7 separate regions of the Homo sapiens genome follow, and all the other regions are linked to region 3. Evidence: fine-mapped expression QTL. A gene starts in region 3. Each other region holds a variant in brackets. All regions are shown on one strand. Distances are between the middles of the regions. Region 1 holds the start of SLC16A8 (solute carrier family 16 member 8). Region 2 holds the start of LOC102724378 (a long non-coding RNA gene). Region 3 holds the start of TRIOBP (TRIO and F-actin binding protein). Region 4 holds the start of GALR3 (galanin receptor 3). Region 5 overlaps POLR2F (RNA polymerase II, I and III subunit F). Region 6 holds the start of LOC105373023 (a long non-coding RNA gene). Region 7 holds the start of LOC105373027 (a long non-coding RNA gene).

Region 1 (4,066 bases), 390 kb before region 3:
TGTCACCCAGGCTGGAGTGCAGTGGCGCCATCTTGGCTCACTGCAACCTCTGCCTCCTGCATTCAAGCGATTCTCCTGCCTGAGCCTCCTGAGTAGCTGGGATTACAGGCACACACCACCACACCTGGCTACTTTTTGTATTTTTAGTAGAGACAGGGTTTCACTATGTTGGCCAGGCTGGTCTTGAACTCCTGACCTCAGGTGATCCACCCACCTCGGTCTCCCAAAGTGCTGGGATTACAGGCGTGAGTCACTGCACCCAGGTGGCAAGGTGCAGTCTTGAGTGGGCCCAGCCCCCTTCAGCCCCTGGAGAACCACCGGCCCTGAGCCCCTCTCTCTGCCCTGAAGGTCACTGCGTCCATCCCTCTGCCTCCTCTCAGGACCTCCCTCCGGTCAACAGTCTCCTTTCATGCAGGTGCGGGGAGGAAGCTGTCGGATGCCTCCTGCCTAAGGTGCCCCAGCTACTGGCAGGACAAGGGATTGGACAGGCCCCAACCCCTTTCCTTCCCCCTCCTTTCTCTGGACTTAGGTCCTACCCACTCCGGGGCAGCCACAGCCTCGATGACCTCCTGGACCGGCCGGGCAACTCCATAGCACCCTCGGAGTACTGGGATGGCCAGTCCCGCTCCCGCACCCCAAGCCGGGTGCCAAGCCGTGCCCCCAGCCCTGCACCTCCACCCTTGCCCAGCAGCCGCCGCAGCAGCATGGGCAGCACAGCAGTTGCCACTGACGTCAAGGTGAGCCCTTGCCCGCCCTCTCTTGGGGCCTCCAGCGGGCAGGGAGGCAGGAGAGCAGGGATCCCGAGGCTCTGTCACCGGCTGTCTGGCAGGGGACCCGCCTACCTGGCCTCACTCAGTCTGTTCCTCAGTGCAGGGAGGGGTGGTGTGGGGCTGAGTCTGGGCTGAAGGGGAAGACCAGGGTCCCAGGACAGGGTGTGGCCTGGGGCTAGCCAGTAGGACGGGGCTGGGGGAGGCCAGGGAGGGCATCTCCGATGGAGCCACCCCGGTCTTATCCTGGGGGCGTGGTTAGTCCTTGGAGGTGGTGCTCTGGCCTAGGGGTTTCTCACTTCTGCAACCCACAGAATTCTGGGCTTCAGAACGTCAGGGTCTCATTTTCCAGGAGCCTGGCATGGCAGGGGCTCTCTGGCCCAGTCCTCTGCCCTTGGGCATGGGGAGAGGGAGGGGAGGAGCAAGGGATTGCTTGCCCCTCTCCCCACCAAACCAGCCCTTCCCCACCCCCACTGCAGAAACTGATGTCCTCAGAGCAGTACCCACCACAGGAGCTCTTCCCGAGGTGAGTCCTCACATGGGGGCCCAAACAGTGAGGAGGGTGGCAGGTGCGGCGGCACACACTTGTAGTCCCAGCTACTAGGGAGACTGGGGCAGGAGGATCTCTTGATTCCAACAGTTCAACATCAGCTTGAGCAACACTGTGAGACCCTATCTCTTAAAAGAAAAAAAAAGATGAAGCGGGGCAAGGAGTGGATGGAGACCAAATAGGGGCAGGAGGCAGGACCCAGCTCAGTTGCCCAGCTGCCTTCCTGAGCCATGGCCAGGTGGGGATCATCTGCCCTTCTCACCCCATTCTCTCTCTCCTCCTACAGGGGCACAAATCCTTTTGCCACTGTCAAGCTTCGTCCCACCATCACCAATGACCGCTCAGCACCCCTCATCCGCTGAGG[C/T]GGGGTCCGAGGTCGTACCCCACAGTGCACCTGCCCAGGGGCTGTTCAGAGCTGGCAATGGCAGCGACAGCAGCAACAGCAGCAGATCCAAGAAGCGGGTCCCTGAGACGGGGGGTGGCTGCCCTCCCCAGACCACCCCGGCAGCCTGAGCAGCTCCAAAGCACTGGCTTGGGGTCCGAGACCTTCAAAGTAAAGCAGGCGGAATGGGGGGACAGGACAATTTCTCCCCCTCCAGGGGCTCCAGGACTCTCCCTGGGGGGCCCACCTCTTGCCCCCTAACCTCTTTCCCCCTTTTCTGCCCCCGTGGGGAGGAGCCCCTTGTACCTGCTCCGTGCCCAACACATGCCCTCTCTGTACATCTTTTGTAAATGATGAGAAATAAAGGAAGTGGACGCAAAGTGATGCGGCAGCAGGACTGGTGGTGTCTTATTTGGGGGACAGGGCAGGGGGTGAGGGATAGAGACTCCCCCATTGGAGAATGGGGTCTAGGGGGTACTGAGGTCCTGGCTGTTCCCCGGGAAGCCATCTCACTCCCAGCCCCTTGTTTGTTTGTTTGGAGAACTCTTTAGGGCTGCCCCAAAGCCCTCGCGCTGCAGCCCCCATCTCCACCTGCTCTCATTTCGACCTGTGGGTTTCCTAGGAAGTAGCGGCTGCTCGGGTCAGGGGAGAGGTGGCAGTGGCCAAGGGCTGGGACCACCAGCAAGCTGCCCTCAGGCGGCCTGGACACAGCACCCTTTGTTTTGGCCCCTCCCCCCCCCACATTCCCAGGCACAGGCGTGGATTAGCTTCATTCTAGAGAAAGCTGCCAGCCCCTCCTGGAATGTGGCCTGGGGCGGGGGGTTGGGGCGGGGGCAGATGAGGCACTGAGGTGATTAGAACCGTTGGGGTCTCTTCAGGGCAGGGCTGTGCCCCCAGCACCAGACTAGGACCCCCTGGGCAAGGTCTCTGTGTCTACCACCCCAGGCTCCAGGAGGCACAGGGATTCTCTTCCTCCCTCCTGGACTGGCTTGGGACAGGGAGCCCACCGCCGAGGCCCAGCCTGGCCTGGGGCTCCCAGTCTCTTCTCCCCTCCTGGACAAAAGCCTCTTAGCAGGGGTGAGGTGTGGTGGGGGCACACACTCTAAGCTCCAGGCCTGGGGCAGGGAGCGTCAGGCGGGAGTCGGCCAGAGGCTCAGCCCAGGCTGGTGGGAAGCTGGGGTGTCTGGCAGCCCCCATCCGGGTAAGCTTCACCGGGAGCTGCGGCGGCGGCCCCTCCCTGCAGGCCTCAGGAGATGTGAGGCTGGACCCCCAAACCCACGAGGCAGGCTCAGGTGAGTGTGATGTGAGGGCTGCCTGGGATCACCCTCCTGTCTCCACCTTCAAGTGGCTGCCCCTGTGACAAGAGGACAACAGGCAGGAAAAGCCACAACCTGGTCCTAGTGGAGGAGGGGCAGAGTCCCGGATACCCTGGGGGTGGTGGCACTGCCCAGTGCCAGGAGGGACACTCCAGGCAGGAGGGCAGGAGGCTATCCCCAGCCCCCGGCTCCTGGTGCACCTGTCTCTGAGTACACCCTCCTCATCTGTTATGGGGGCGCTTGTAACTGCTGTGAGGGCCCCGGGTGGAGCCCCAGGAATGAGACAGGCTTTGGAGCCATTCTTTTCATATAGAGGGTTTGAGGTTTGGAGGGCAGAAGGCCACTCTCTCAGTGCTGCTAAGGTTCCTACCTGTCTGGCAGAAGCCAGAGACCTGACTCCTCTCCCGCAAGATTCCCAGCTGGCCTCGGGGTGATCAATCACCCATCTTACATCGGAGGAAAGGGAGGTTGGGAGAGGGGAGGCGACCGGCCCAAGTCAGGGAGGGAATCCATGGCTGAGCTGAGATGCATGGGAACTCAGCTCCCCTGGCTGATATCTGTTGAAAGTGGCTTTTGTCCCCTTAATGTTCTAATGACAATAGTCATTTGTGATCACTGAGAAACATTAGGAACATGGCGGAAGGCTAAAGAGGAAAATCACGCACAGCGGCCCTTTGCAGCCGGCATCTGCCCCTCTGCTGTTTGTTCTGTTGTCCCGAGACCCTCACGCGTACGGGGCGACTTTGGTGCTGGACGCCCACCTCCAGGCACATACCTGCTCCACTTCCCGACGCCTTCCACCTGAGGCCCTGAGGGGCCAGCAGTTGTCCTTCAGAGGGAGCCTGCAGAGGTGCAGAGTCAGGTGGGACCCGTCGTCCTCCCCTCGTCCTTCAGCGCCCTTTGCAGGAGAAGGAGACTTGGGGTGAGAGTCCTACCTCCGTTTCCCCTTTTGGTTCCCAGACCTGAGCCACCCTCACGTGGGTAGCCCTGTGCCTCAGTTTCCCCATGCTTCGTCTCCATCCCCCTCCTTCTCTAGGCTGCTGGCCCAGCC
Region 2 (4,072 bases), 48 kb before region 3:
GTGGCCCCGTCTTCCGGCCCAGCCCTCCTCTCGCCTTCGGGAAATGAGGAGGGGGCTGCCCCGGAGGGGAGAGGCTGGGCTCTGCCTCGGGTCGTCGCCCTTCTCCCGGCCTCGGGCGCGGGCGGCTGACTGGGGCACTCACCGTCATGGCGGCGCCCCAGGGCGGCGGGAGCAGGAGGCAGGAACGTGGACGCGGCTCTCGGGCCGGGCTCCGCGGCGCGGGAACCCCGCCGCCGCCGCCGCCGCCGCCCCTCTCGGCCGCCCGCCGCCGCGCCTCCGGCCCTTCCTTTCCCCGACGCTGCCCCGGCCCCTTCCATCCGCCCATAAAACTTTTTTTTTTTTTTTTTCAAACTTCCTGGGAGGACCCGAGCGGGCCAATGGGTGGCGGGGAAGCCGAGACAAACAGCGGCGGGGGCCGCGGCGGGCCAATGGAAGCGCGAGACGGGCCGGGGGCGGGACCTGCCGCAACGGGACGGGCGCGCTAGGGCGGCGGGGCGGCGGGACGGCGGGACGGCGGGGTGGGCGGATGGGGCCGCAGGGAAGGGAGGGCGGTGGCGGCCGGAGGGCGGGCGGGCCCGGGCCGCGGGCGCGCTGGGAGGAAGGAAGGGCCCAGGGTGCAGGTGACTCCGGCAATGGCGCGGGGGCGGAGGATGCGGGCGGCCGGGCGTGGGCACGACTCGCCCAGGCTGCGCTTCCCGACCCGGCCCCGGAGCGATGGGTCCGCTAGGGCTCGGCGCCGTGATTTGGCGGGGACCGGGGCAAAGCACCCAGTACTAACGACTCAGCGGGTCCCACTCGCCAAGAGTCGATTTTCGTCCTCACCACAGACTTGGGAGGGAGGTCTTATTTTGCTAATGAGAAAACGGAGGCTCAGAGGGGTGAGCCGATTTGCCCGAGGTCACACAGGAAGAGGCGGAATTCCTAGCGAGTAAGCTGGACACAAAGTGAGTTCTTGGATGGCAGGGTCTCTCCCAAATGCCCACTCCTCACAAATGGGTCTTTTTTGGTTTGGGGTTTTTCAGGTGTGGGCGTGCACCCGTTGCTCAGGTTCCCAGAACGCTGGGCCGTTTGTTAGATGCTCTTTTCCTGCAGGTGAGTAGGGACCGTGGTGGAATTGGTTGCTAAATGCACTAGGAAGTTCGTGTGGCACGGGGATTCCAGCCTAGTGTTACCTTAAGCAAGGCACCTCTCGGTGCTCAATTTCACTCTCTGTAAAATGGGGTAATGCTGTTACCTCATGAGGTTGCTGGAAGGATTAAGTGTTAATTCAAGTAAGGCACCTAGGACAACCTCTTTATCCCTCATTAGCTATCCTTAGGCAAGGAGGCAGGGAAGCTTGGAATAATTGGCATTTCAATTATTCTGTCATCTTGATTTGGGGTTCAAAAATTATTGCCCTTGCCGGGCGCGGTGGTTCAGGTCTGTAATCCCAACACTTTGGGAGGCTGAGGTGGGTGGATCATTGAGATCAGGAGTTCAAGAGCAGACTGGCCAACATGGTGAAACCCCGTCTCTACTAAAAATACAAAAATTAGCCGGGCGTGGTGTCAGGCGCCTGTAATCCAGCTATGTAAAAGGCTGAGGCAGGAGAATCGCTTGAACCCGGGAGGCAGAGGTTACAGTGAGCAGAGATTGTGCCACTGCACTCCACCTTGGGAGACGGAGCGAGACTCCCTCTCAAAAAAAAAAATTATTGCTTTTATAATTACTGTTCCCATTTTGCAGATAAAGAAATGGAGGCCCAGGGAGCTGAAGTTCTTTCCCAGCATTTGCTGCCAGGAGTCTCTCCACCATGAGGAATGAGGCCAAGGTTAAGTCCATCTAACTCTAGAAACTGGCCTTCTGGCACCCCGGGCTGAGTTTTCTCACCCTACCCTTGCACCTCACTCAGGCAGTCAGTCCTTGGGAGAGTGAATGAACACGCAGGAGACCTCACCTACCACCAGGGTCCTGGTCCAGTGCCCTGGGCACCTAACAGCACCAGCCTCCTCCAGGCTTTTCTGGCCCCTGCGACTCCTCCTAGTACCCGCAACACAGTGACCAGACCACTTCCCTGCTCAAAGTTCTTCCACACATCACCAATGCTGACAGATCAGTGCTACATTCCTCTTCTAGGCAGTCAGGAACCATCACAACCTGGCTCCTGCCTGTCATCCTGGCCTTCCAGATTCTCATT[T/C]GACAGGCTGGAGAGACACATACTTTGGTCAATTTTGCAAAATACAATAAGTAAATAAAGAGATGCACAGCACTGGAGGCTGGGCGCGGTGGTTTATGCCTGTAATCTCAGCACTTTAGGAGGCCGAGGCGGGTGGATCACCTGAGGTCAGGAGTTCGAGACTAGGCTGGCCAACATGGTGAAACCCCGTCTCTGGTAAAAATACAAAAAATTAGCCGGGCGTGGTGGCACATGGCTGTGATCCCAGCTACTTGGGAGGCTGAGGCAGGAGAATCGCTGGAACCTGGGAGGCGTAGGTTGCGGTGAGTGAAGATCACACCACTGCATTCCACTCCAGCCTAGGCAACAGAGCGAGACTCCATCTCAGAAAAAAAAAAAAAAAAAAAGATACACAGCACTGGACTACTAGGAATTCCCAGGATAAGACAGGTCCTTCTACCCCCTGATGGTTCTCTGCTGTGCCTGGAACACTTCTCTTCCTGTCTTCTGTACCCCAGCACACACACACACACACACCCAGCACACACTCACACACACCCAGCACACACACACACACACACACACACACACACACACACACACACATTCTCTCTCTCTTTCTCCCCTTCCCCCTCCCAATGCTTGTTGGCCTGGAAAATTTCTTCCTTGAAGTCTCAGACCAAAGGAAGCCAAAGTGTCCCCAGCAGACTTAGGAACTGCTGGCCCAGTGCTCCCTACATCTGTACCTTTCCCCACTAAAGTGGTGACCACACTGTTCTCATCAGTTACATGTCAGTGTCCTTACCTAACTGGGCTCCAGTGGCCAGGGCTGGAATGTTTTTTGTCTACATCTTGGAAACCAGCCTAGGGCCTAAGCCCACAGCACATCCTCCGTAAGCACGGCTCGAATGAATGAATGCACCAATGAAGAAACCACAACTCATCCTGGCAGGTCAGAGACAGCACAGCCTCAGGGACCCAGGGGTGAGTTATTAAACTGGCAAAGACCAGAGCTACCAAACTTCGAGGTTATCCAGTCTCAAACCGTTACTCTACTGAGAATAATAAGGTAAGGCTCAGAGAAGGGCACACAAGTTAGGTGCCAAGCCAGAACTCGACTCCAGGCTTTCTGGCTCTTGGCCTTGGGCTAATTTCACTGCTTCAGCCCAAGAGAAGTTTAAATCTGCTCTGTGTAACTGGGAGGCCCTGCTGGCAGTTCCATCCCTAGCTCTTCATTTCCCTCACTCCCACATGAGAGAACCACTGTAGCCAACCTCACCAAGCCTCGGTTGCCGCATCTTTCTAATGGGGAAAATCTGTGGGGACTCCCAGAGCTGCAGGAGGGCTCAGAGAGATCAGGATGTGAAGGCAGTGGTGTAGGGGGCGTGTTGGAAGCACTGGGCTCTGAGGTCAGCCAGAGCAGGGTCTGAATCTCAGTTCTGCCCCTTGCTCCCTGTGTGACCTGGAGCAAGTGACCCTCCCTCTCTGAGCTTCACTTCATCATCTGTAAAATGGACAGTAGGCGTCTAACTGCACCTGGGAGTGTGGATCAAATGCAATTAGGTGGCGCCATGCAGTGAACACAGAGCTGGGCATGTAGTAGGCATACAATAAGTGCTGGTTAGCCAGCATCATTACCCCAGAGTGCTTTCCCTGCTTCGCTCCTCCTTCGCTCTACCAAGGACTTACCTGCCCCCTCCTGCCAGACGTGCTGTGTGTTGGTGACCTTTAGTTAGACAAGGTAATTCCTGCCCATGGCTTAAAGGTACCACACTACTCAGATAACCATGCTTGCCTGCTCACCCTCGGTGCCTTAACCACAAAGAGCAGCGAAAGGAAATTCTGGGCTCAGCTGGGTGACTCACGCCTGTAATCCCAGCACTTTGGGAGGCCAGGGCGGGCGGATCACTTGAAGTC
Region 3 (4,072 bases):
AACTGGGACTACAGGTGTACGCCACCACGCCCAGCTAATTTTTTTCTTTTTTATTTTGTAAAAATGGGCTCTTGGCCAGGTGCGGTGGCTCACGCCTATAATCCCAGCACTTTGGGAGGCTGAGGCAGGCAGATCACTTGAGGCCAGGAATTCAAGACCAGCCTGCCCAACATGATGAAACCCTGTCTCTACTAAAACTATAAAAATTAGCTGGGCGTGGTGCGCATGCCTGTAATCCCAGCTACTCAAGAGGCTGGGGCAAGAGAATTGCTTGAACCCAGGAGGTGGAGGTTGCAGTGGAGCTAAGATCGCCCCGCTGCACTCCAGCCTGGGCAACAGTGTGTCTCAAAAAAAAAAAAAAAAAAAAAAAAGGCTCTTGCAGTGTTACCCAGGCTGGTTTTGAACTCCTGAACTCCTGACCTCAAGTAATCCTCCTCCTTCCCTCAAAGTGCTGGGATTACAGGTGTGAAGCATCATACCCTTCTGAAACCCTGGTGTCTTTCTTTCTTTTTTTTTTTTTTTTTTTGAGACAGAATCTCGGTCTATCACCCAGGCTGGAGTGCAGTGGCGCGATCTCGGCTCACTGCAACCTCTGCCTCCCGGATTCAAGCAATTCTCCTGCCGCAGCCTCCCAAATAGCTGGGATTACAGGCATGTGCCACCATGCCCGGATAATTTTTTTGTATTTTTGGTAGAGACGAGGTTTCACCATATGGGCCAGGCTGGTCTCGAACTCCTGACCTTGTGATCCACCCACCTCGACCTCCCAAAGTGCTGGGATTACAGGCTTGAGCCACCGCGCCCGGCCGCCCTGGTATCTTACTTGTGCAAGGGTTCTCCTTTCTGGGTGCCCCTAAGGCCACCAACATCCATGCCCTGGAGTGGAGCTGGGTCAGGAGAATCACTTAAAGATGGCCTCCCCACTCACACAGAGCCCCAGGGGGAGGGTGGGGGGTGGGAGGAACCCAACATCCCAAAACACCTGCAGCTTTTGGTGCCCCCAGGTCACCTGCCCACATCCATCCTCACCTGCTGTGTTCCAGGGGATCAGGCTTTTGTGGCCAATCTTGGTGGAGAGCTGAGGAATTTCACCTCCTCCCCTGGGACAGCCAGGGCCAAGGCTCCTCCATCATCAGACCTGGAGAAGGGAATGCGGTGGGGGCGACAGCAAGGCACGGTGGGGAGAGGGCTACCCACTGGTCCTTCCGTGGCCCCAGGGTCTCTGATCCTCCCCGGGCGGTCGTCCTCCCGACTCCTGGTGGTGGAAGAGGGGCGCATCGGCCCCGCCCGTCCTGGGCGTTTCTCTCCTGGTCTGGCCACATAAAGGAGCGTCGCCTAGCAGGAGAACGCCGCTCATTTTCCTGGGGGTGGGTAGGGGGCTCTACTCCACGTGCCCCTCGCTGCTCCCGTTTCCTCCCCTACCCACAACCAATAGGCAGAATCCTTCTCTAAAATGCACTTGAGATGTGGATATAATAATCAAAACCTTAAGCAGCTACACATGCCCCACCCAGAGAATGGACCCGGGACCCTCTCCATCCAGGCATTCAGCCAGTTCCTCCCCGGATCCCTCGACCCCTACCCCTCCTGTAGGCCTCCCCCTACCAGCTCCTCTTTTCTGAGGCCCAGTGCTAACCTTGGCTGGGTTTCCACGCACAGGGGCTGCCGGGGTGGGAGTGCCAGGGTCATGGCCTCTTTATTTTAACAATGAATCAGAGCGATGCTCGGGAGGTGGAAGGCCACGCCCCTGCCACGCTCGCATAGGCTCTCTCTGGGTGCCTCATTTACATGAAGACTGTGGGACTCTGTGGGACTGGACAAACCAGAACAAGGGGCGGGGCGGAGGCAGGCGGGGCGCAGATACCTCTGAGAGCGGGACTCACTGCACGTTTAGCCTGGGCCGCCTGCAGCCCTTGCCCGCTGGGGGTCCCCAGGGAGCCCTGGAGAGGGCTGGCACTGGCGGATCTGGCTCCTTCTGACCTCTTTCCCGTTGGTTCATTCTGCCGACAGTCCGCTGGGCTGGCTTTAGCACAGACCTTGGACTAGAGTCTTAACCTCTCTGTCATGACAGTTTTCTTACCGAGGAGGCGGAGGTTGCAGTGAGCTGAGATAGCGCCATTGCACTCCAGCCTGGGCGACAGAGCAAAACTCTTGTATAAAAAAGAAAAAAAAAATAGCCTGGCGTGGTGGTGTGCGCCTGTAGTCTCAGCTACTCAGAAGGCTGAGGCAGGAGCATCGCTTGAACCCGGGAGGCGGAGGTTGCAGTGAGCCGAAATCACACCACTGCACTCCAGCCTGGGCAACAGAGTGAGACTCCGCCTTAAAAAAAAAAAAAAAAAAAAAAAAAAAAACTTGTTTCCCATCTTTTTTCCTTTTGGTTGATATTTGCCAATTGTGGCGACTGGGATGGGAGGAGGAGGGCGAAATTCACTGGACAGGGAGGAAGGTTGCAGCAGGAGTCCAGGAGAGATGGGTGCAGTGATGAGACAGGGAAGGTAAACTAGATTCAGACACTTGTAGGCAGGTGAGCTTGGCACTAGGGTCACAGAAATCTTAGATTATTTTGAGAGTTGTTGGGGATCACCTGGGGGTTGGATTCAGACAGGATTGGCTGAGAACCTACATTGACACAAGCTTGTGCCCAGAGCAGAAACAGAAATGACTAAGATACAATTTCTCACTCAGAAAGCTCTGGTCTGGTTCGAGGGACAAACCAGGATTCACTGTGTTCAGTGTTTAAAAGAAGGAAACACCTACTATCATGGGAGGTCAGGTGGAGAAAGGAGGAAGGCAGAGAAGGCTTCTCCTTGGAGGTGGCTCAAAGGTGAGGAGATCGAGAAAGGCTGAGAACAGCCTGCAAACCTCTGAAGGTGGCTGGGGGAGGCCAATGCTAGCTCAGAACAAGGCGGGCATTTCTAGCAGTCCTCACAAGGGAGCAGGCAGTGAGCTCTCCAAGCTCAGGAGGAACTGAAGCCCCTCACCAGAGCCACCTGCAAGCCAAAGGAAGGTCAATGGCTCAAACCTGGGGGCGTCAAGGTCGTCAGCACCACTGGGACCTTGGAAAGGATGGACGCTGAGGCTTATATGACCCCAGAACACCTGCCCCCACAGTTCCTCACCTCACCCCCCTGGGGAGAGCTCAGGCCACCCCAAAACAGATCGTACCAAAAGAAGTTTTATTTTAATGGGCTGAGCCCAGCCTCAGGTAACTATGGCCACAGCTCATCATGTACTAGCACAGGGCCTGACCTTGGTGTGAAAACCGAGGATGGATAAATGTCTGCTGTGACTTTAGCTCCACACAGATGGATCCCCTCATGACAGCCCTTTATATATTTGGCTTCTGTGAAATAATCTGCTGATTATACCCCAACACCCATTCTCTCATTTTTTTTTTTTTTTTTTTTTTGAGACAGATTCTCGCTCAGTTGCCCAGGCTGGAGTGCAGTGGCGCGATCTCTGCTCACTGCAAGCTCCGCCTCCCGGGTTCATGCCATTCTCCTGCCTCAGCCTCCCAAGTAGCTGGGACTACAGGTGCCCGCCACCACGCCCAACTAATTTTTTGTATTTTTAGTAGAGACGGGGTTTCACCGTGTTAGCCAGGACGGTCTTGATCTCCTGACCTCGTGATCTGCCCGCCTTGGCCTCCCAAAATGCTGGGATTACAGGTGTGAGCCACTGCGCCTGGCCTCATTCTCTCATTTTTGAGATGGAGTCTTGCTGTTGTCACCCAGGCCGGAGTGCAGTGGTGTGATCTTGGCCCACTGCAACCTCTGGCCCTCGGGTTCAAGTGATTCTCATCTCAGCCTCCCAAGTAGCTGGGATTACAGGCACCTGCCATCACACCTGGCTAATTTTTATATTTTTAGTAGAGATCGGGTTTCGCCACGTTGGCCAGGCTGGTCTCAAACACCTGATCTCAGGTGATTGGCCCACCTCAGCCTCCCAAAGTGCTGGGATTACAGGCACGAACCACTGTGCCAGGCCCCATTCTCTCCTTTCTAACACAATCCCCAATTCTCATCTGAGCACTTGGTTTCCCAGAATAGAAGAGTTCCTGGCCGGGCGGGGT
Region 4 (4,072 bases), 130 kb before region 3:
CGGCCACCGCCAGCATGGCGCGCCCCGCGCGGCCCGTCGCCCTCCGCCGCGCCTCGGCCGCCGCCGCGCCCGCGGGACCCACGGCGGCCCACAGGAAGCGCAGCGTGCGCCCGTAGGCCAGGCTCACCACAGCCACGGGCAGCAGGTAGCCGGCAGCGAAGGTGGCCACGTCCAGGGCGCGGCGGCGCGCGTCCTCCCAGGCGGGCACGCAGAGCTCCAGCGCGCCGTAGCGCACGGTGCCGTAGTAGCTGAGGTAGGGCGCCGAGAAGAGCGCCGCCAGCAGCCACACCAGCCCCACTGCGGCGCGGGCGTTACGCGGCGTGCGCAGGGCGCGCGAGCGCAGCGGGTGCCGCACGGCCAGGTACCTGCGGAGGGCGCCTGGTCAGCGGGGCGGGCAGGTGCCCTCCCGCAGGGGCCCGCGCCACGTCCCGCGCCCGGGCCCTGCGGCCCAGTGCGCCTCCTGTGAACCGTGGGGGACGTGGCGGGGATTAAGGGTGTGAACGCGCAAGGTGCTTAGGCCCTTGCACCTAGCAAGGGCCCGATCCCGGTGACTTGTTATTTCTAGGATTATTTTATGGATGCGTCAGATGAGGTCCAGAGAGAAGTGACTTGCCCAGGGTCATCAGCTGGAGTGAGCCTGGATTTGACCCCAAGTTTCAAGCTGTGGAAGCAGATGTGTGCACAGCTTGGCCAGGTGTGGGCAGTTAGAAAATAGCTGGGCTGGGCGCGGTGGCTCACGCCTGTAATCCCAGCACTTGGGAGGCCGAGGCGGGCGGATCACTTGAGGTCAGGGGTTCGAGACCAGCCTGTCCAACATGGCAAAACCCCGTTTCTACTAAAAATACAAAAAATTAGCCAGGTGTGGTGGCCTGTAATCCCAGCTACTCAGGAGGCTGTGGCAGGAGAATCGCTGGAACCCAGGAGGCAGAGGTTGCAGTGAGCCAAGATCCAAAAAAAAAAAACAACAAAACAAAACAAAACAAAAAAACTGATGAACGCATTCGTGAGCTTCTTTTGCGATTCATTTCGCGCTTACAGAGCACTTACTATGTGCCAGACCCTGTGCTGCCACTTGAGACTCAGAGGCGTCCTCTGGAAGTTCACAGTGGAGGAGGGGAAGGGCAGGACAGTCCCCTCAAGCACGCCCTGCAGGTGCCCAGAGGCTGCTTGCGAGGGGTCAGGGAGCTTTTGTTTCCTCCCACCCACCTCCCTTTCTGGTCCCCCACTCTCTCCTTCCTAAGGCCAGTGAGGATCTGTTCAGGACTCCTCCCCCAACCCCCGCCCCCACAGCCCTGCCCAGCCAGGCCCCAGGCACAGCGCACCTGTCCACGGAGACAGCAGCCAGCGTAAAGCTGCTGGCGTACATGGTGAGGTAGATGAGCAGGTGCACGGCCTTGCAGACGAGGGCCCCAAAGAGCCAGGCATCCAGCGTGTAGATGGTGGCCTGGAAGGGCACGCAGCACAGGATGAAGCAGAGGTCAGCCACCGCCAGGTTGAGGATGAACAGGTCCGTGGTGCTGCCAG[G/C]CTCCTGCCAGGCACTCGGGCCAGGCTGCAGGAGCACTGCCAGCACCAGCCCATTGCCCACTGTGCCCAGCAGGAAGATTAGGGCAAAGACCACAGGCACTGCCACGGCCCCCACACTCCCTGGGCTGTCCAGTGAAATGTTCTGGGCATCAGCCATCTCCCCATCAGACGGGCACCTGGGAAGAGAAGCTGGAATCCTCAGGCAAGAGCCCCCAGTTCTGGTTGCTTGACCCCGGGATCTAACTCCCCCGACCTGGGTCTGGCCAGGTGTTCTGGGCTGGAAGCTCGTGGGAGATGGAGGAGGGGAGAGCAGAGCCAAAGTCATCGCTGAGTGTCACTGTGTGAGCAAGCTCGTGGTGTTCAAGGGGTGAGAGTTCCTCAGTTTCCTAAGGAACACCCCTGGAGTCCTGCCTGGAGGACTACCTAGGTATTTGAGGGACACTTTCAACCCACGAGGCTGGGGAAGGCACAAGCGAAGTAGGATGAAGATATGGCGATGGGGGGAGGGGCCAAACCCAGAAACTGGTATGTTTTCCTTCTCAATGGGGATCTGAAGCTCAGGGGAGACCCTGGGACATGGGTTTAGGGCTTTCTCTGGCTACAAGCTGTAGCCTTAGCAAAACACGGGTAACATCCCTGAGTCATTGGAGGGTCCAGTATAGTGAGATCATCACAATGGCAAAACTGGGAAGACCGTGTAGGTCACTGCTTCCTCTCTGCACATAGGGAAATTGAGGCCCAGAGAGGGGACATGGGAGGATAATATCACACTCGAAATGGCAGCTCTGGGGCTGTTGCCACCCTGGTATCCTGCCTCTTAAGCTAGAGTGCTCATCTGAGAGCTTGTAACAGGTGGTGCCTCTGACAACTTGTGTGTGTGCACACCGCACCCATGCTCACCCCCATCCCACTCTACAGCCCATGTCTCCTACTGCCTGTGGATCTCCTTGCAGGCTTGAGACCACTGGGGTGGTGGGACAAAGTAGGGGAAAGGGGGGTCAGGCAGGGAGTAGGGAAGAAAGGCAATGTCTGCCCCCATCCCAGCACCCAGCATGCAGTAGGTCCCCAAAGCCCAGGATGGGCAACACCCACCTCCGCCTTGGGCAGTGGGCTTGATCCTGGGTGGAATGGCCGGGCTGGGTGGGCCTCCTGATTCAGCGGCTGCCCCTTGGTGCCTCCCTGCAGGTACTGGTCTGCCTTCTACTTCTCCCCCTTTGCCTTTAAGGCCCCTCCTCTCCTCTGCCCCCTCTGCTGAGCCGGAGTTGGGCACTCCCTCTGGAGTAGCCACTGGCCACTTCCTCCTCAGTCCCTGATTTCCCCCAGGTGGCAGGCTCTTCTGCCTGGCTCTTCTCTGCCTCTCTGCGTTGCTGCTGCCTTTTCCTCTCTCTGCAGCCAGTAACCCATTGATCTCGCTCTCTGTGATTTGCTTTGTAGTTAACCCCTCTGTGCCCAGGGCCCAGCCAGTCTCTGGCACTCCCACCTCCTGTGGCCCAGCCTGATGTGACTCCATCCCCTATCCCTGCACCTTCTTGCTCCAATCCATGTTTAGAAAAGGTTCCTAGGCCGGGCATGGTGGCTCACGTCTGTAATCCCAGCACTTTGGGAGGCTGAGGCAGGCAGATCACTTGAGGCCAGGAATTCGAGACCAGCCTGGCCAATGTGGCGAAACCTTGTCTCTACTAAAAATACAAAAATTAACTGAGCGTCGTGGCGGGCGCCTGTAATCCCAGCTACTCTGGAGGCTGAGGCAGGAGAATCGCTTGAACCTGGGAGGTGGAGGTTGCAATGAGCCGAGATGACGCCACTGCACTCCAGCCCAGGTGATGGAGTGAGACATTGTCTCAAAAAAAAAAAAAAAAAAAAAAAGAAGAGGCTGGGCGCGGTGGCTCATGCCTGTAATCCCAGCACTTTGGGAGGCCAAGACAGGTGGATCATGAGGTCAGGAGTTCAAGACCAGCCTGGCCAAGATGATGAAACCCCATGTCTACTAAAAATACAAAAATTAGCTGGGTGTGGTGGCGGGCACCTGTAATCCCAGCTGCTCGGGAGGCTGAGGCAGAGAATTGCTTGAAGCCAGGGGTTGGAGGTTGCAGTGAGCCAAGATCGTGCCACTGCACTCCAGCCTGGGCGACAGAGCGAGATTCCGTCTCAAAAAAAAAAAAAAAAAAAAAAAAAAAAAGGATTCCTAGTCTTGACTGGGGTTTCCTGGAGTGGGAAACCAGGACTTGAGTCTCCTTTCGGCAGACTCCAGAGACTCCTCCCTCAGGCTCTGCAAATCCTGAGATCCTTCTCCGGAAGCTCTTTCCAGAGCCTTAGTCCAGCTGGAGCCCAGATGGTTTAGGTACCTGTCCAAAAAGTCTGGCTTTACCTGATAGCAACGGGGAACTACTAAGATTCTACAGCAGAGACATGACCCGCACATTTTCTTTCTTTCTTTCTTTTTTTCCCCCCACATTATCTTTTGTAAAAAGTTTGTTATGGGCCAGGCGCAGCGGCTCACACCTGTAATCCTAGCACTTTGGGAGGCTGAGGTGGGCGGATCATCTGA
Region 5 (4,072 bases), 260 kb before region 3:
CGCTACTGAGGAATGGGGGAGAACAATGTTGTCCACCCATAAAACCCTTTATTGAAGTAGACATGATGGTCATCTTTACCCCTACAGGACTAGAGGAGGCAACAGCCCAGTGCTGCTTGAACACTAAGGAGGAGAATGTACAGACAGCATTTGCTGCCCCTGTAAGCACACAGAGTCCACAAATCTGGCCCCAGCTTTCCTTTGTTTTTTTTTTGTTTGTTTGTTTGTTTGTTTTGAGATGGAGTCTCTGTCACTCAGGCTGGTGTGCAGTAGTGCGATCACAGTTCACTGCAGCCTCAACCTCCTGGCCTTAGGTGATCCTCCCACGTCAGCCTCCCGAGTAGCTGGGACTACAGGCGCACGCCACCACACTCAGCTAATTTTTGTATTTTTTGTAGAGATGGGGTTTCACCATGTTGCCCAGGCTGATTTTGAACTTCTGGGCTCAAGCAATCCACCTGCCTCGTCCTCCCAAAGTGCTGGGATTACAGTTGTGAGCCACGGCACCCAGCTGCTTTTCTTTCTAGGCTAATTTCCATTATTCCCTACTTGAACTACCCCCGCTCCTCCAGATACCCACCATTTCCCACATCAGTCTATAGGGAGTTTGGGGTAGGGGCTCCTGTTCTCAGTCTCATGCTTCCCCACAGTACCATTAGAGTACCCCGCTCTGTCCCCTCACCTACTCCTCAAAAGAAAGGAGGAGGAACTATTCTGACAGGTGAGCCTGGGGGGAAAAAAAGCAGGCATCTGTGGCCCAGCCTCTTTGAAAGTCCCTGCTTTCTCAAAGCCATCTGTTGGCAGAGGGTGCTTCCAGTCTGTTCTCCAGTCTGCCCCAAACCTTAGCAGGCATCTGAAGGCCTGCACTGCCTATGGCTAACACATCTGCACTCATTGGACACTCGCATCTCCACCTGTCTACTCTATCTCCTGAATCTTTATTCTCCCAAATGTGGGAGAGGAGGGAAGTTTGCTGATTTTCAAATCCCCAAAACCCCACCACTGCTCTGTGCTTTCATCTCTCTAGCGTGCTTTCAAGCTGGAGGGCCCCCCACTCTGCTGGACTGGCCATAGTCTACCTCACATCAAGAACCACCTTAAAGCCAGGAATGGTTGCTCATGCTTGTAATCCCAGCTCCAGCACTTTGGGAGCTGAGGCAGGAGAATCACTTGAGGCTGAGTTCAAGACCAGCCTGGGCAACATAGCAAGACCCCTATCTCCACAAAAAATACAAAGCCAGGCATAGTGGCACATACCTGTAATCCCAGCTTGAAGCTACTTGGGAGGTTGAGACAAGAAAATTGCTTGAGCCGGCCAGGCGCGGTGGCTCATGCCTGTACTCCCAGTACTTTGGGAGGCCAAGGCAGGTGGATCACAAGGTCAGGAGATGGAGACCATCCTGACTAACACCGTGAAACCCCATCTCCACTAAAAATACAAAAAAATTAGCCAGGCGTTGTGGTGGGCACCTGTAGTCCCAGCTGCTTGGGAGGCTGAGGCAGGAGAATGGCGTGATCCTAGGAGGTGGATATTGCAGTGAACCGAGATCACGCCACGGCACTCCAGCTTGGGCGACAGAGCGAGACTCCATCTCAAAAAAAAAAAAAAAGAAAAAAGAAAATTGCACCGGCCGGGCACGGTGGCTCACGCCTGTAATCCCAACATTTTGGGAGGCCAAGGCGGGTGGATCACAAGGTCAGGAGTTTGAGACCAGCCTGGCCAATATGGTGAAACCCCGTCTCTACTAAAAATACAAAAATAGCCGGGCACGGTGGCTCACGTCTGTAATCCCAACACTTTGGGAGGCCGAGGCGGGCGGATCATGAGGTCAGGAGAAAGAGACCAACCACCCTGGCTAACATGGTGAAACCCCGTCTCCACTAAAAATACAAAAAGCTAGCTGGGCACGGTGGCGGGCGCCTGTAGTCCCAGCTACTCTGGAGGCTGAGGCAGGAGAAGGGCGTGAAGCCAGGAGGCAGCACTTGCAGTGAGCGGAGAACGCGCCACTGCACTCCAGGCTGGGTGATAGAGCGAGACTCCATCTCAAAGAAAAAAGAAAAAATACAAAAATTAGCCAGGTGTGGTGGTGGACGCCTGTAGTCCCAGCTACGCGGGAGGCTGAGGCAGGACAATCGCTTGAACCCGGGAGGCAGGGGTTGTACTGAGCTGAGATTGGGCCAGTGCACTCCAGCATGGGAGACAGAGCAAGACTCTGTCAAAAAAAAAAAAAAAGAAAAGAAAATTGCTTGAGCCCAGGAGTTTGAGGCTGCAATGGGCCATGATCAGGCCCCTGTGCTCCAGCATGGGCAACAGATTGAGATCTTGACTCGGAAAATAAAACAACAAAGAACCACCATGGCCGGGCGCGGTGGCTCTCACCTGCAATCCCAACACTTTGGGAGGCAGAGGCAGGTGGATCACTTGAAGCTAGGCGTTCGAGAC[T/C]AGCCTAGGCAACATGGCGAGACCCCGTCTCTATTAAAAACACAACAATTAGTTAGGCATGGTGGCACATGCCTGTAATTCCAGCTACCTGGGAGGCTGAGGCACGAGAATCACTTGAACCTGGGAGGCAGAGGTTGCAGTGAGCTGAGATTGTGCCATTGCACTCCAGCCTAGGTGACTCAGCGAGACTCTATCTCAAAAAAAAAAAAAAAAAACTACACTGGTACACATTGGCTCTGAATTCACCTTTTTTGCTGCACTAATCTGACACGCAACCATCTAGTTCTGTTTTTTTTTTTTTATCGTTTTTCTCCCATATTGTTACTTGACTTCTCAGATGTTCATGTCCTAGTTCTCCTATTAGATCACAAGCTCCCTGAGGGCAGGGGACTAGCTCAATGCCTGGTACGCAGGGACGGCACCACTTTTGGAATGTGAGAGCAGAGAGTCTGTTTTCAGGTGCCAGGCTGGGAAAGATCAGCGGTACAAGAGCTTACTGTGGCCTGACAGATGGAGAAGACAGTGAAGGGGCAATCACTCACGCAATCTGGAGCGCTCGGGTGCCCAGCACGCGGGCTCGCTCGTACTTGGTCATGTATGGTGTGGTGATTCGCTTCTGGTTGGCCTGCGGTCGCTCCCCAGAGGGGAGGATCTCGACATTCTCCTGGCCTTCCTGGACACCAAGACAAAAAAGAGGGAAAGACTCAGGTGGCACTTTTGGGTTACAGGGAGAGTGATAATGACAACAATCACAATTCTCGCTACAGCCACCGTTAATGCTTACTGCATGCCAGGGGACCACATAACTGCTTCCTAACAACTCATGTAATCCTTACAATAACCTTATGAGGCAGGGATTACAGTTCTCATTTCAGAGGCTTGGAAAGTCAGCTAACCTGACCAAGCCTCAGACCTGGTAATGGAGGTCTGAGATTCCAGAGCTAACTGCCTCATCCAGAAGAGAGCAGAGGGCCTGGAGATGGGGTGGTATCAGAATGTTGGTCCTGTAAAAGAGGTCCTGGCACAAAAAAATTACCCTAAGCAGGAAGCTAGGAATAGTCTTCCCATCTTTCAGATAGGGGAGCTGAGCCAATGGGCCAAGTGGCTAGAAAAGTCAAGGTGAAGGCAGGAATATTTAACAATTACTTACTAAGCATTTGTCCTGAGCCAGATATTGTTAACAGATGCTGAGAAAGAAAGCTAGGAATTTCTGCTCTCAATTAATGGTCTAAAGGGGAGACAAGAGTAAACAGAGCAGGTGCTATGAAGGGTGCAACAGAGTTCCCGAGGAGGTGGGGACACCTCACTCACACTGGGGGTTAGGAAAACTCCAGGGATGAGGCTTGAGCTCACCTAGAAGGATGAGCAGGAGCTGTCAAACCAATGAGGAAGGAGGCAACATGCAAAGGCATAGAGGAGAAAGAGGTTTGGACAACTAGTTGTGGACAATAATTAGAACAAAAGGTGCGTAGAGGATTGTAGGCAAGAGAATAAATTCTGTGGTATATAAAGAATTAAGTAAACAGGCCAGGCGCAGTGGCTCACACCTGTAATCCCAGCACTTTGGGAGGCCGAGGCGGGCGGATCACAAGGCAGGAGATCGAGACCATCCTGGCTAACACGGTGAAC
Region 6 (4,000 bases), 770 kb after region 3:
CACCATGCTGGGTCAGAGTGACGGTGAGCCGGGTGCCCAGAGGCCTGTCTGGTTGGAATGAGAAGTAGTCAACGTCAGTGACGACAAAACTCTGGCAGGGAATGACACATCTCCTGGGCACGCAGCGGGGATGGGGGCAGGCTGACCAGGGCATGTCATCACTGAGGTCACAGGACACTGGCTCCAGGAGGTCCCTGTTGGGAGAGGACACGGCTTAGCCCAGGGTGTATGGGTATCACTGACTCACGAAAGGTTCCTCGAGTGCTCACCACATGCCTGGCTCTGTTCAGAATCAGGGGCCAGCAGTGATAAAACACACAAAAATCCTGCCCACGGAGCTGCCATCCTGGGAGAAGGGGACCCGCATGGAACAAAGTGTGTAGCGTGTGCAGTGGAGAGAACTTCATGTGGAAAAATAAAGCAAGAAGCAGGTGAGGAGGGAGGAAGGGCTGGGCCAGGGAGGCAATTTGAAATATGGGACAAGCAGGCTTCTCTAAGGAGGTGACCTGGGGGCAGAATGTTAAAGGCATTGAGGGAGGGACTGTGCAAATTGTGAGGATTTCAGGAAATGGGAACAGCACGTGCAAAGGCCCTGGGACAGGCAGAGTTTGGTGTGCTGCGTGGCTTGGCCTAAAACCAGTGCGCAGGGAGTAGAGCGTGTGATAGGGAGGTCTAGGAGACCCATCCATCTACATGATGGGATTGGATCTCACTGCGAGTGAGTGGGAAACAGTCATGAGCAGAGGTGTTGTAGATTTTGATAAATGCTTTGAAAGGATTCCTGAGGGTCCTCGGTTGCGAATAGACTGAGGTGGGAATGTGGCAATGTTGGAAGCAGGGAGCCCAGTTACGAGGCTTCTGGAATATTCAGGTGACAGGAAGTGGCGTGCAACAGGGTGGTCAGGCTGGCGTGGGTGAGATTCATGTTCTGCTTGAGATAAGGTTGGCAGCATTTGCTGGTGGAGGGATGTAGCAGTCAGGAAGGAATGGTGACAAAAGAGACTTAAAAACAAAACAAAATCCTCCCTGTTGTTTAGTTTGAGCCACTAGGAGCTCCCATTTAGAAAGGGAGATGGGGAAGACAGAGGCAGCAGCGCAGCTCGGGTGAGAGCGGGACTTTGGTTGAGGACGTTTGGAGTCGGAGACACCTGTTGTCTAAGTGACAGGTGGAGAGGCCAGTACGCCTGGAGGGCTGGAGCTTAGGGGAATTGTGGGCTTGAGGTCACCTTTGGGAGATGCCCCAGGGGCCTGAGGGGGTCTCTGCAGAGTGGATACAGCAGAGAGGAGGTCCATGGACTGGGCCTGGGTGTCTTGCCATCAGGAGGCAGCAGACAAGGAGAAAGAGGAGGATGGGCAGGGCCCCGGGGGCACTGGGTGAGCTGTGGGCAGAGTCAGGTGCAAGAGAAACTGCAGGGAGGCCGCGGTGGTCCTCCTTGTCAGGGGCTGCCCCTGGTCAAGTAGGAAGAAGGCGGAGGCCCAACCATGAGATCCTGCTCCCTGGGACATTTGCTGACTTGGACCAGAGCAGTTTGGGTGGCCTGGTGGGGGCAGCATCCTAGGGGAGTGGGCCCAGGAGGAAATGGCTGGAAAGACACTGGACGTGGTGAATGTGGACAACTCTTTAGGGAATGCTGCTGTCAAAGGAAGCAGAGAAAGAGGGGCCGCAGGGTTGCCAGGTCAGGAGATGCCCAGGCGCTGCACTCCTGTGGGCATCTGAGAGGG[G/A]GTTGGGGCAGGTTTGCAAGGCAATTGGGAAAGATCCTGGGAGAGGGCATGGTGGGTGGCACAGGGCAGAGTGGGGACTTGGGGGCCGTGATGTTCCTGAGCAACAGGACCAGACAGCATCGTGTCTCAGGCCTCAGACAGGAGCCCTGGTCCAGGCCCAGGCCCCGGCGGTGGGCAAAGGGGGTGGGGAGTGTGAGTGTGGGGTGGGTGGGGAGCTTCTCCCTGGTCCCCTGTTGTGTCAGAGCAGCAGGAAGCAGGTCACAGGGAGGGGCAGGATGGTCTTTGAGGAGAATGGAGAAGGTCCGACAGAGACGCCCTGGAGAACTGAAGGCGGTGGAGGGGTGGGGGTGGCAGAGCCGGCCCCGCCCCCCAACGCTGGGGTGACCTCCAATGGGTTGTCATCTGCCTCTCTGGTTCCAGCTATTTAATTACTTAATTTATGGCTGATTTAGACCCTGGCCAACACCCCAGAGCGATTCTGGTCCCCTTCCCTTGTGGCACGTGCCCAGGAGAGCTTGGGTGGGAGAGGTGGCAGCCCACATACGGAGGGGGGGCCTGGGAGAGCGCGGAGCCCCCTCCCAGACACGTCCACACAGCTTGCTCTGCCACTGTCTACCCCGTGGCCAGGGCTGGCACCTCACCTCCAGGGCCTCAGTTTTCCCATCTGTGAACTCCCAGGCTAGCGCCATCTCTCCTTGGTCTACTCTGGACAGGCAGGCAGTGGCACAGCTGGGGCTTCGTGGCCTGGCCCTGCCCACCTCACAGTGAGGAGGAACTAAGATAGGTCATGTGGGGCAATTGTGTTAAATTGTGATGAAACAAGAGAAGATTTTCACCATTGCCACCACCACCATTGTCACCAACATCAGTGTAGGAGGCACTCCGCAGAAACCCCAGGTCAGACGGCAGCACCCGGCCTCGCAGGTGCCTGGCGGAGCAGGAGCTCTTGCAGGGCCTCCCTCCTCCTCTGTCCTCTGTCCACTCCCACCCCGAGGCTGACCTGACAGGTCCCTCTCTACACTGTCGCCCCATGCCAGGCACAGGGGACGTCGTAGCCCCTGCCCGTGGCCCCTGCCCCCAGCATCACTCACTCATTCACCCGGCGAATGAGGGTCACGTTGACGAGCCGCTGGGCATCCTGGGTGTCTGCCCACCTGCAGGTGATGTGGCTGGTGTAGTCGTTGTAGCAGCGCAGGGTCTGCAGCGGGATGGTTTCTGACAAGAGGGGTAGAAGGGGGTCACCTCTCTTTCCTGCAGGGACCCTTGTCACCATCACCCCCAGCTGCTTTGGGATGTCCCGCTCTGGGGAGGGGTCTCCCAGGTCCCTGCAGAGGCACCAGGTGGCCAGGCACATGTACATGTGTTCATGTCTGCCGGGGTGGGCTCCTGGTTGCGGACCCTCCTCTCCTGGCAGAAGCAAGACATTCTGTTGGTTCTCAGCATGGTTTCTGGGCCTCCGCAGTGTGCTGTTCCTGGGCACGGTCCCCTCCCCCCACCCCAGGACAGGGACATGCATCAAGCACAGGCCTGGCCCCTGGACCGACTGTGCAGCCTGGGAGGGGGCACACACTCAGCCCTGGGATGCAGCGTGGCAGAGTTCTACCCTGCAACCTCCCACCTCCTCTCTAGTCCCCGTCCTCAGGAGCCTGGTATTTGTTAAGGGGACTGTGGTCCCAGCATTATCACAGAAGCCAGGTCTCTGGGAGCCCTTGGGAGGGGCCATTTCACCTCAAGAGCCCAGGAGCATCCCAGTGCGGGCTTCAGGCACAAGGAGGGTGCTAGCGGCTGAAGCAGGGAGAGAACCCCAGCCAAGGCCCTGCAGGAGCAAAGTCCCGGAGGTGGGAACCACTGAGGCACAGAGAGTGTCTGCTGGGGAAGGAGGGGCAGGGAAACGGCCAGAGCAGCCATCCTGGAGCCTAGGGGCCGGGAGTGCCGCCCTGAGAAATGTGGGCAAGGAAGCCAGACACGCTCAGCTGGACTTTCCAAGACAGGATGAGCAGGAATGTGCAGGAGGAGGGAAGCGGGGGAGGCCCAGGGAAGGCCAGGGGGAGAGACAGAGGGAGGGGAGCAGGAGGAGGGCTGGCGGGCAGGATCCTGAGGATACGCTGCGGCCCTCCCCCAGGGTGCAGCAGTGAGGACAGGGACAGGGAAGTGGGTGGGAGCCACGGGACTCACCTTCTGCCCCTGCCAGGCTGCGCTCCCAGCACAGGGCCAGCAGGGCCATGGAGAGCAGCCCCTGGGCCAGCACCATCTCCCTGGTCAGCTCTGGACAGGCAGG
Region 7 (4,072 bases), 380 kb before region 3:
TGGCACCACTACATTCCAGCCTGGGCCAATGGAGTGAGACCCTGTCTCAAAAGAATAAGAAAATTCCTGAAGCCAGGTGCAGTGGTTCACACCTGTAATCCCAGCACTTTGAGAGGCCAAGTCGGGAGGATCCCTTGAGCTCAGGAGTTCAGGACCAGCCTGGGCAACACAGCAAGACCCCATCCCTAAAAAAAACATAATAAAAGAGAGACTTTCCTGAGTTTGAAAGTAGTATCTACAAGGGATAGAAGCCTTGAGAAATAGAGAAGGAAATGAGTTACTGGCCCACAAGCCCCACCTGTGCCGATGATGGCTTGGTCTGGGATGCTCATGGGCCTCCTGGGACAGAGGGGTGGGAGGACTAAGCCAAGCCCCTGAGGACCAGGGCATTTACATGGCAACAGCAAGAGGTGGAGGCCCCCAGGAGGGCAGAGCTAAGCCCAGGGCCCCCTCCCCGCTCCCACCCCAGATACCCCACTGCCAAGCAAGTCACAGGACACTTGTGGGGCTTGAATCAGAGGGTGGAGGGGACGCCTCACCAGAAGCCACATATCACTTAAGCAATTGAGGTCCAGGGACAGCAAGTGACATTTTTAAGGTTTCAAATGGCAGAATCCACATGAGGTTTTACATCTGTAAAACAGGAATAAAGAGTGGGCATGTGTGTGTCACCCAGGAGCCTCACCAAGTCAGTGGCACCACCCTTGACCTGAGAGTGCAGGAGAGTGAGGGGAGGACCCCACAGGACCTTACCTCTCCCTCCTCTTCCTCCTCCTCCCCAGGCCGCCTGGTGGATGTGTTGAAGAACTATGAGATCATCTTCTACCTGGCCGGCTCTGAGGTGGCCCTGGCTGGGGTCTTCATGGCTGTCGCCACCAACTGCTGCCTGCGTTGTGCTAAAGCTGCCCCGTCAGGCCCAGGCACTGAGGGCGGAGCCAGTGACACTGAGGACGCTGAGGCTGAAGGGGACTCTGAGCCCCTGCCTGTTGTTGCAGAGGAACCCGGCAACCTGGAGGCCCTGGAGGTGCTCAGCGCCCGGGGCGAGCCCACAGAACCAGAAATAGAGGCGAGGCCGAGGCTGGCTGCCGAGTCTGTATAACTCAGGGTGCTCTGGGTGGGGTGGCCCAGTGACTTGGGAACACAGCTTCTTGTCTCAGAGAGCCTGGTACGCTGGGAGGCTGGTCTGGGGTGGTCACTCCCGGGGTCCACGTCTGGGCTCCAGTTGATCCCCTGGGTGTCTGGGAACTGCCTCCCTCATCTGTGCCCCAAGTTCCGCCAGGCCCTGCCCCATCGCCAGTGAAGCTGCTATGGAGCAACAGGAAACTGGTGATAAAGCTCAGCTGAACGACAGAAGGTTCTATTCCTCCGCCCAGGCTCCGGCTGCCACCTGAGTTGGGGGTCAGGGTGGTGGGAGGGAGTCTGGGAGGTCTCTCTCCAGGCCCCCTAAGCAGGCTTCTAGGTGGGCAGTGTTGGGAGGAAGCGTCAGAGATGGATGAAGAGACCCATCGTTCCCAGGTGTAGAGACACAAGGGGCTGGGCGGGCACAGGGCTCAGGGGCACAGGGCTGGGTGGGCACAGTGCCTGGCTCCTGCCCAGCCCCACTGCTCAGAGCTGTCTGCTGAAGGCCCCCTCGCTGGCATCTGCCTTTTCCCGTGGAGGGAACGAGGGGTTGGCAGCAACTAGGGTTCAAGGTTGGGGTCTGCCTGCAGGCGGGGGGCCCGAGCGGTCTGAGAAGACTCACAGTTCCCAGGGTCAGGGTCGGTTTGAATCCCAGCCCCGCTGACTTCCTTGCTCACTGGAGGCTGAGCATACGACTCCGTCCCCTGGGGTCCTGGGGAGGGTGGGACCAGGCGCTCAGTAACACCATGGGCCCTGCTGCCTTCCACGAGGTGGCCATGTCCCCTCACCTTCCCAGAGGGCATCTCTCCCACTAGAGGATAAACTTGGGTGTCCAGGGCCAGGGGCTTTTGCTGTGGACACTGTGCTGGCAGCCAGGTCATCTGCTGATCCCAGCACCTGCCTTCTCCCCACGGAGCGTCCCACGATCTCCCTCACACTTTGACATCTGACCTCCTGCACTTGGATCCAGGTGCAC[G/A]AATCTGGCAAGACGCGATGTATTCCCTCTATGCATTTATCCTCCTCCCATACATCACACCCCTCCTTTCTTTGCCTCCCTCCGAATCATGAGCGTGGTGAACAGGCCCCTGCAGAGGAAGCCGCCTTCCCTCCGCAAACTCCCCTCACCTTCCAGCCCGGCCCATAGTGACCCCTCCCCACTGGTCCCTGCTGGCCCTCATTTTCCATCTAGGCCCCAGGAAGGTCTGGGGAGCCCCACAGATGCCTGGCCGGCTTCTACTTATATGGCCTGTGGCTTCCCCTGCACCACTAGAGCAGTGACTGCGTTTGACTTTATTATTATTATTTTTTATTTATTTTTTTGAAATGGAGTCTCGCTCTGTTGCCCAGGCTGGAGTGCAGTGGCACAATCTCGGCTCACTGCAAGCTCTGCCTCCCAGGTTCACACCATTCTCCTGTCTCAGCCTCCCCAGCAGCTGGGACTACAGGCCCCCGCCACCACGCCTGGCTAATTTTTTGTATTTTTAGTGGAGACGAGGTTTCACCGTGTTAGCCAGGATGGTCTCGATCTCCTGACCTCGTGATCCGCCCGCCTTGGCCTCCCAAAGTGCTGGGATTACAGGCGTGAGCCACCGCTCCCGGCCCGTCTGACTTTATTTAAGATTTAAGAGTGCTTGCTCTGTGCCAAGCCCTGTTCTAAGCCCTCTCCAGATGTTCATTTAATCTCCTAACAAGCCAATAAGGTAGGTGCCACACTTCAGATAGGGAAATTGAGGCCCAGGGAGGTCAGGAACGAACCCAGGCTGTCAGTTCCAGCCTGTGCTCTTGGCCTCCACTCTGGCTGCCCCCTTCAGGGAGGCAGTGTGGTCTGTCTGATGGCTCTGCGGGGACCCAGGTGGGCTCCTGGTGACAGCCAGCCCCTCCTCCATGTCCCACCCCTGCCAAGCCTCCCATTTGGGTTTCTGCCCAGCAATGCATGCTCAAAGCTGATGCAGAAACCCTTTTTCCATCCTGGACTCAGCCCACCTCGCACACCCTGTTGCCCCCTCGCATTCTCAGGATGGCCATATTCATCGTCCAAACAGGAACACGTTAGAGTGACAAGGGCCACTATGACTGATTACACCAGGCCGAGGCTGGCCAGGAGAAGCAGGAGAAGTGGCCACCCTGTTTCTGCCACTCTGCAGACACTCCCCATGGCCTCTCCCCACGCCCCTCTTCCCACAGCCCCCGAGCACCTCTCCCCACACGCCTTTCCCCACCACCCGGGCAGCACAGGCGCGCCTGGAGTCAGCACTTACCCCTCACCACCCTCCCCTACTTGGGGGCTCAGTCGCCCTGGCTCCATGTCTGCCCTTCTCTCCCCCAGAGGTTTATTTCCTGTCGGAAGCACAGAAAGGTCACAGATTGGGGGCGGGGGAAGGGGGCGGGGGGTGAGATACAAAAGGTTCCACAAAGCAGAAAGCTTTGGAGGCAGGTGGCAAAGTCAGGCCTTCAGGACAGATCTGAGTTAAAACCCACTGTGTCCCCACACAGGGCGTGGCCTTGGGCAAGATCTTTCTCTGAGCCTCAAATCACCAGCTGTGAGGGGACCACAGTGCTAGCCCTGCAACACTTCAGTGAGGCATAAATGGTGCATAGCAAGGGCGCTGTCAATAGACGGTGGAGGGGAGGGGCAGACAAGGAGGGTCTGAAGCCACTGCGACCACTGCGCCATCCAGGTTTGTGTTTATTCGATACAGGCCCAGAACCCAGCCCTCCTTCAGAGAAGTGGCCGAGCTGGGGGAACAGAATAAATAAAGGCCGCCGAGGTGTGATGGGGACTGGACGGGCCGGTCTGGGGCGAGGCAAGGGTGCCCAGGAGGCATTGACCCCAACCTCAGCTGTCCACGGCTGGCCCCACTCCCAGCAGGCTCCGGGGGCAGTGTGAGCGCCCACAAGGAGCAGGGCTCGGACTCCTGCCACCTCCAAGTCCTTTCTTTTCCTTCCTGCCCTC

What was found. PIP is the estimated chance that this variant, and not a neighbour inherited with it, causes the effect. A credible set is the group of variants that fine-mapping cannot tell apart.
Region 1: its variant is the best candidate, but not a certain one, in a credible set for the expression of TRIOBP in whole blood (INTERVAL, PIP 0.84).
Region 2: its variant is the best candidate, but not a certain one, in a credible set for the expression of TRIOBP in whole blood (TOPMed, PIP 0.56).
Region 4: its variant is the best candidate, but not a certain one, in a credible set for the expression of TRIOBP in whole blood (INTERVAL, PIP 0.67).
Region 5: its variant is the best candidate, but not a certain one, in a credible set for the expression of TRIOBP in whole blood (Lepik 2017, PIP 0.59).
Region 6: its variant is the best candidate, but not a certain one, in a credible set for the expression of TRIOBP in gastroesophageal junction (GTEx, PIP 0.89).
Region 7: its variant is the best candidate, but not a certain one, in a credible set for the expression of TRIOBP in NK cells (Schmiedel 2018, PIP 0.56).

What each region holds. Positions count from the first base shown.
Region 1 is chr22:38,082,913-38,086,978 of GRCh38, reverse strand. SLC16A8 (solute carrier family 16 member 8) reads left to right here and starts at 2,795. Exons shown (of 6, transcript NM_013356.3): 1 at 2,795-2,991; 2 at 3,618-3,937. It overlaps BAIAP2L2 (BAR/IMD domain containing adaptor protein 2 like 2), which reads left to right. Exons shown (of 14, transcript NM_025045.6): 12 at 530-737; 13 at 1,247-1,293; 14 at 1,604-2,079. The coding sequence ends at 1,679. RefSeq lists enhancers at 190-969, 2,530-3,311. The variant C/T (reference allele first, on the strand shown) is at 1,682.
Region 2 is chr22:37,742,491-37,746,562 of GRCh38, reverse strand. The region is part of intron 11 of TRIOBP (TRIO and F-actin binding protein); the gene reads right to left. All of the region lies in intron 1 of LOC124905115, which reads left to right. It overlaps LOC102724378 (a long non-coding RNA gene), which reads left to right and starts at 619. Exons shown (of 3, transcript NR_160697.1): 1 at 619-944; 2 at 1,023-1,092; 3 at 1,726-2,253. RefSeq lists silencers at 1-119, 460-759. The variant T/C (reference allele first, on the strand shown) is at 2,177.
Region 3 is chr22:37,694,654-37,698,725 of GRCh38, reverse strand. TRIOBP (TRIO and F-actin binding protein) reads right to left here and starts at 1,678. Exons shown (of 24, transcript NM_001039141.3): 1 at 1,637-1,678; 2 at 1,030-1,138.
Region 4 is chr22:37,821,016-37,825,087 of GRCh38, reverse strand. It overlaps GALR3 (galanin receptor 3), which reads right to left and starts at 1,706. Exons shown (of 2, transcript NM_003614.2): 1 at 1,323-1,706; 2 at 1-365. The coding sequence starts at 1,681. The variant G/C (reference allele first, on the strand shown) is at 1,525.
Region 5 is chr22:37,958,390-37,962,461 of GRCh38, reverse strand. It overlaps POLR2F (RNA polymerase II, I and III subunit F), which reads right to left. Exons shown (of 5, transcript NM_021974.5): 3 at 2,986-3,116. Among named protein-coding and RNA genes, the nearest start is that of POLR2F, 6.7 kb to the right of the region's middle. The variant T/C (reference allele first, on the strand shown) is at 2,444.
Region 6 is chr22:36,922,181-36,926,180 of GRCh38, reverse strand. It overlaps CSF2RB (colony stimulating factor 2 receptor subunit beta), which reads right to left. Exons shown (of 14, transcript NM_000395.3): 2 at 3,898-4,000; 3 at 2,814-2,937; 4 at 4-194. The coding sequence starts at 3,973. LOC105373023 (a long non-coding RNA gene) reads left to right here and starts at 238. Exons shown (of 2, transcript XR_938230.2): 1 at 238-431. RefSeq lists enhancers at 1-677, 3,323-3,893. The variant G/A (reference allele first, on the strand shown) is at 1,723.
Region 7 is chr22:38,075,415-38,079,486 of GRCh38, reverse strand. PICK1 (protein interacting with PRKCA 1) reads right to left here. Exons shown (of 13, transcript NM_012407.4): 13 at 3,786-4,072. SLC16A8 (solute carrier family 16 member 8) reads left to right here. Exons shown (of 6, transcript NM_013356.3): 6 at 783-1,350. The coding sequence ends at 1,099. LOC105373027 (a long non-coding RNA gene) reads right to left here and starts at 846. Exons shown (of 3, transcript XR_938249.3): 1 at 754-846; 2 at 540-633. RefSeq lists an enhancer at 4,026-4,072. The variant G/A (reference allele first, on the strand shown) is at 2,096.